2 separate regions of the Homo sapiens genome follow, and region 1 is linked to region 2. The links come from fine-mapping of genetic effects on gene expression. A gene starts in region 2. The other region holds a variant in brackets. All regions are shown on one strand. Distances are between the middles of the regions. Region 1 has its middle 24 kb from the start of LINC02842. Region 2 holds the start of ASPH (aspartate beta-hydroxylase).

The links.
Region 1: its variant is fine-mapped to the expression of ASPH in whole blood (INTERVAL, PIP above 0.99).

What each region holds. Positions count from the first base shown.
Region 1 is chr8:61,759,744-61,762,653 of GRCh38, forward strand. No RefSeq gene overlaps it. Among named protein-coding and RNA genes, the nearest start is that of LINC02842, 24 kb to the right of the region's middle. RefSeq lists an enhancer at 34-1,233. The variant G/C (reference allele first, on the strand shown) is at 1,706.
Region 2 is chr8:61,713,231-61,716,140 of GRCh38, forward strand. ASPH (aspartate beta-hydroxylase) reads right to left here and starts at 1,362. Exons shown (of 25, transcript NM_004318.4): 1 at 1,039-1,362. The coding sequence starts at 1,141. MIR4470 (microRNA 4470) reads left to right here and starts at 1,558; the gene lies at 1,558-1,629. RefSeq lists silencers at 732-1,161, 1,202-1,571.

The DNA.
Region 1 (2,910 bases), 47 kb after region 2:
AATGTCTTAGTTTTGAGTTCTCCCCAAAGCAAACTGAGACCAGAATTCAGTGCAGGGAGTTCATCTGGGAGGTGATCTCAGGAAGCCAGGGTGAGGTAGCAGAAGCATGAGTCACAAAAGGAGGAAAAATCAAATGATGTGTTATCAAGGTCGCTGCTGTAGACAGCAAGGTTCCATTCTGGCAGGACTTCTACAAAATGTACATAGTGCCCCCAGGAATTGTTCATGACAGGACATTCATCCTCTGGCTGCTGTGGCACAGGCTCCCCTCCCCTTCCAGGTCTTTTGCAGGGTGGGCAGCTACTGTGGCGTCTGAGAAGGCCAGGACCAGAAGCGCATGTGAGCTCTCACCGAGCGTGGGCCAGGCAATGTGACTGGAAGCACCAAAAGGGCTTTCTAGAGTGAGAGTGCTTATTGCTAGAGTGAGAGTGCTTACTGAGGATTTCCCACGGGAGATCGTAGAGGGTGTCCCATGACCCCCTGTATGTGAACAACTTCACAATCACTGCAGCTTTCCCGCAAAGTCACCTCCTGGCTTAGTCACTGCTGCTCTTCCGCAAAGTCACCTCCTGAATTAGTCACTGCTGCTCTCCCGCAAAGTCACTTCCTGGCTTAGTCACTGCTGCTCTCCTGTAAAGTCACCTCCTGGCTTTGGCAACCAGGGCTCCTTTTTTAGCCTCCACCCCCAGCTCCTCCCTGGAACCCTCTCTCCCGCCTTTTGGATTCTACACCAAAGTCAAATTCTCCCAACTCCTGGGAAGAGCGGCCTCTTTCCTGGCTTCAAGTCTGGCTTCTAGCGGTCACAGGCCTGAGGCTCAGCTCCTACCCCAAAGTAGGTTTATCCACACAGCTGCCTAAAAAAGGTAGTGACAAATAACATTTCTTCTCATTATTGCACAAGTTTTCCACAAGCCCGTCCTGACCATATCTTGGATGGATTCTTCAGTCCACTTGGGCTTTTATTCTTGCTAGTCACCATCCGGCCTATTCTGTGCTCCACTGAAATACATCTGTTATCCTGTTATGGACAGGAGCTCTTGTGTTTTTCCCAAGACAATAATTAGGTCATTCAATGGTGAAATTCCTGCTAAGAGCGGTGGCCCAATGACAGTCCTGGCGAGTCAATCTGCTCGTATCTGCCCGTGCCATCTCTGTGCCAGCCTCCCCACTCCTTCCCTCCACTTCCCCTGTACTTGCACTTCTTCCTGCACTAGGTCAAAATTTTGAATTTTGTTTTTTTTTCAATGTCTCTTTAAGTCTGCCTTGATCCAGGAATTCTCTTGTGCTTTGTTCATATGGCTAGCAGCAAACCTCCCTATATTTAACTGAATATATGTCATTTAAAAAGCATCACTGAGTATAATTATCATGGTGCCTCTCCCTTTTTCTTTCTGCTGACATCTGTTTCAAATCTTCATCACTCCTAACTATAGATTTCTCTTTAAGATATTGCTTCAATGTGGCTTTCCTATTCTCGGAACAAATAGAATGGAACTCACTGCATTCTTTTCCAGCTCTTTTGGGTGATGTAGGACAAGGCTGCAGGAACTCAGCTTTTCCAGAAGTAGAGCATGGAGCCATATTAGCTGGAGGGTTGCTGAATGGTTCCAGGTTCAAACATCAGCATAGCAAAGTCATTATGAGCACAAACTCCTGTGACTTACTCAGCTGTGTGACTCAGGGCAAGCAACATAATATTGCTGTA[G/C]CTTGGTTCATTCTTTTTTACAGTGGTAGATACAATAAAGTAATACGCATCTCACAGGGTCGAGTGGGTGCTAAAAGAGTTAGTAGATATCAGGCACTCCAGAGGTTGCTTTATACAGCAGGCACTCAACCTTTGTTTATTACTATCATGTTGCTCCACCAGAGAGTCACAGATTTCATCTCTGGGGTCACTTGATCCCTTTGCTGTCTGCAACTTTTGTAGCTTGGGAGGAGCTTCCTTGACAAGATAAGGAATTTATTTATTCCTCCAGCCAGTGGGATTTCCGACTGTCCGGGGAGGTGGTTTGGAACTAAGACTTAACATGAAGAGAAAATACTGATATATTCCATGGAGACGATCTATTTTCCATTTCAACTTGGAAGACTAACACTTGACTGTCTCACCAGTGGAGGCAGCAAGAGGGTGCATAATACAAAGTTTCTGTAAGCCTTGTAATCTCTGACCACTTGGTACAATGAGAAGGACTGTAATATATTGGATGCTACCAGTTTTTACTTTATGGGGAAAGTTTTTCTTCTATTTTTACAGAATAGTCATGACTTTTACACTTTGCACCTTCAGAAATCTCTAAGTCAGAAAATAAGCATTCTCTGCATCCTGTTCTTTTCTTGACTTTACACTATTACTGAATTTTCATTTCAATAGTTTAATAGTAGCAGCTAACATTGACCCTTTATCATGTGCCAGGGACTAAGTGTTACACAGTTAAGTTCTCATTTAATGTCCTAGATAGTTTCTTGGAAACTTTGGCTATAAGCAACATGACATATAATGAAACCAATTTTCCCACAGGCTAATTGATATAAACAAGAGTTAAGTTTCTATAACATCACGAAGACCTCACCAATCTTCAAAATAAAGACCCCCTAAACACTTCTAATACTAAAGCTAAAATAAATGTGAGCTATACATACATTTAAGAAACGTTAATAAAAACAAGGAAGATAATTACCCAATTATTGCAGTTCAGGGTCACGGGTGGCCAGAGCCTATTCTGACAGCTCAGAGTGCAAAGAGGGACCTAACCCTGGCCAGGAGGCCATCCTATTGCAGGGCCCAGTCATATAACAAAACCACGTTGAACAAATGGCACTGTTCCAAGACCTGCTGCATATTGAATTTCTCATTCAACCCTCCCAATGAGCCTGAAGGAGGCCATATAGCATAGCAATTCACTGTGACAT
Region 2 (2,910 bases):
TCAAATATTTATTGAGCACCTATTATGGGAAAGGAACATTCTAGGAGCTGGGGATACAGAGAGAATGAGCCAAAGACAACACACATGAAAGTAATAAGACAAGTTCAGATAGTGACAAGTGCTATAAAGAAAATACTTCTTTGACTATAGCTGATTCATTTTCTTGGTATATTATGAATGCATGATCTGAAGATCTCAGAAAACAAAGAGTCTAAATCACTTCAAGTGAAGTTTACAGCTCACATTCCATACACATGTGTATTGCAGTTTCAATATCCCAAATATGAGTCAAAGGAAGTATAAAAGAAACCAAGAATCACTGAAATATGAGACGAAACAGATTTAAAAATCTGTTCTCTCTGCTGGATATGCACACGGACGAGGAGAAAGGTGAATATCCAATCGATTTTTATTTTAAGTAAAAGTGGTAAAAATACAGACGCTCGTTCAGTATTTCATGACATTCTATTTTAAAGGCAACTGCAACGCATATTAAGAAAGCTACATACAAGCAAAAATATTTAAAATAATTTCTGAGAGCATTCAAATCACTCCCAACTTCTTCCCTCCCCCTGCCCCCCGGCGCCCCCATTTTCACCTCCTTTGAGTTGCTCTGAAACGCTGCTGGTTAGGCAGGAACTCACTTTCCCTGACTTTGGCTCATTTTCAACTCCCCAAAACACGCAAGGCAAACGATAAATTGTTCTCTTACTCCCATGTTCAATTCCACGGAAAGCCAAGAAACAGTCGTTCAGCAACCTCTGTCTCGGCTGCGCCCTGCAGGTGAAGGAACCGCTGGGAAGGGGCTCCCCGAGACTAGCATCCCGAGGGCTCGGACCCCGGTCCGCCTGGCCCCTCGCCCGCCCGCCAGGCCCGCCGAATGCGGCCTCCGCCCCGCGCGCCTAAAGGAGGAGCGTCGCGGGGGATGGAGGCGGCGCGCGGTGGGACCTGGGGAGATGCACCCGCAGCGTCCGCCGCGCCAGCCGGCTCCCTACCCCGAGGCGAGGCCCCAGATCCCCGCCCCGCAGGGCCTCTGACCTCTCCGGGCCCCGGGGCTGCTGCTGCCCGCACTCGTGCTACCGCTGCCGGAGCCGCTGCTGCTGCTGTTGCCGCTGCTCTTGGCATTCTTACGCTGGGCCATTGCACGGTCCGCGGGGGCTGGTGAGGGCTGGCGGACCTCCTTCAGTGCGCGGGGGTACACACGCGACGCGGGAACCGCTGGCGGCGGCGGGCCGCTGGAGCGGGTTCGGGCCGCTGCTCCTGCAGCAGACCCTGTGCCTCAGCACCGCCTGCAGCACCTGGGAAGACTTCACCCGCCTGCCGGCTGCGCGCGCCCGGCCTCGCGTGTACGAACCTGTGACTCCCTCCCGGGGCGAGAGCGCGCGGCTCGCCGCCCGACGGCCACGCCCCTTCCCGGCCTCGCCCCGCCCCCGGAAGGCTGAGTGACGGCGCCTGGGACCCAATCGCAAGGGCCCTTACGAGGCGGCGGTACCCTGCCGCGCTCCCCGCCCCTGCTCACTTAGGGCTGTTCGGGCGCTACGCAGCTGCCTGTGAGCGCGAGCCTCTTTCGGCTTTCCAGTTTGTCTCGGTCCTTTGGAACGTGGCAAACGTGGAAGCCGAGAGGGCTCTCGCGAGCGTTGGCAGACCCCGCTCCATAGGGATGGGACAGGGCGCGGTGCGGAATAGGTGGACACGTGGGCCGCCCGTGGGCGGAGTGCGCCGCTTCTAGGCCTTTCACTGTGGATTTTGTCCCCTTTCCGTATACAAGGAAAGGAAGGAGTGCAGTCTCGCTTCTTGCGAAAGAGATCCCTATTTCTTGTCCTGATTAATACTAAGACATTTCTGGAATGGTGATATTAGGACTAGTTCAATGCTTAAACCGTAGTAGTTCATCCATTTGGTGCTGAAGCAGGAATTTAGTTCGTTTGTGCCATCAGTATTTTCAGATACTCTTAGTTAAGGAATGAAAATGCAAATGTGACACAAAAAGTTCATTTTCTTACCCTGGATGGCACCCTCTGTCTGAAATCCCTGGCTGCTTTGCTAACGCCTGGGCCTGTGCTGCCTGAGAATTCCCAACAGAGTATTAAAATGTCTTGGCACGTGGTTGAACCAGACAAGGACTTGAGATCAGCGACGTCTTTATCATCTTTGTGTCACCATTGCTAACACCATGCCCAATGTGTAACAGGCAAGCAAGAAATGCTTAGTGATTTGATACATTTCTGTCAATTGCTGAACCCACAGCTCTTGATCATGTTTCGTAGCAACCCCTGGGAGTGTCTCAGGAGGGCTCAGGGACCAGAGAGAGCAGTTGCATTGTGGCATCTGGTTTCATTCCTCTTTTCCAGCCCCACAAACCCACCCACCCGCGCCTTCAGAAGCACTCCCGCCTCCCCCCGGCCCCATGCCTTTTCACCTGTGGATGGTTGGATGCTGCTTGACCCTGCCCTGATGATGCACAGAAACCCCCCAAAGGTCATGTTGCAGAATAAAGAGAATGCCTTTCTTTACCTTTTGTCAAATAGTGTTAGGCTATTATCAAGAGACGGTGGGAGGGGAGAGTTCACAGAGTTTTTATTGAAGTAGCTCTCTCAGCTTTTATCTTGTGGCATCTCCTTCTGCATCCATATATCCTTTCTCCCATTCAGGGCCCCCTTACAACCCTCTATTATATTATCTCAATGAAGGAGGTGGAGAACTGGATTAAGAAATAAATCTGAGTGATGGTGCTTCATATAAAATAAAAATGAGAGCTAAATTTCAAAACACAATGCTCTAGCCACCCCCCACCCCCCACACCAAAGATATTTTTACCCTTAAATTCTCACAAAACCCTGTAGTCATATCAATTTTTTAAAGAAATTAGATACTGGAAGCTCAGAGAGATAAAACAAAGTAGGGTCACTG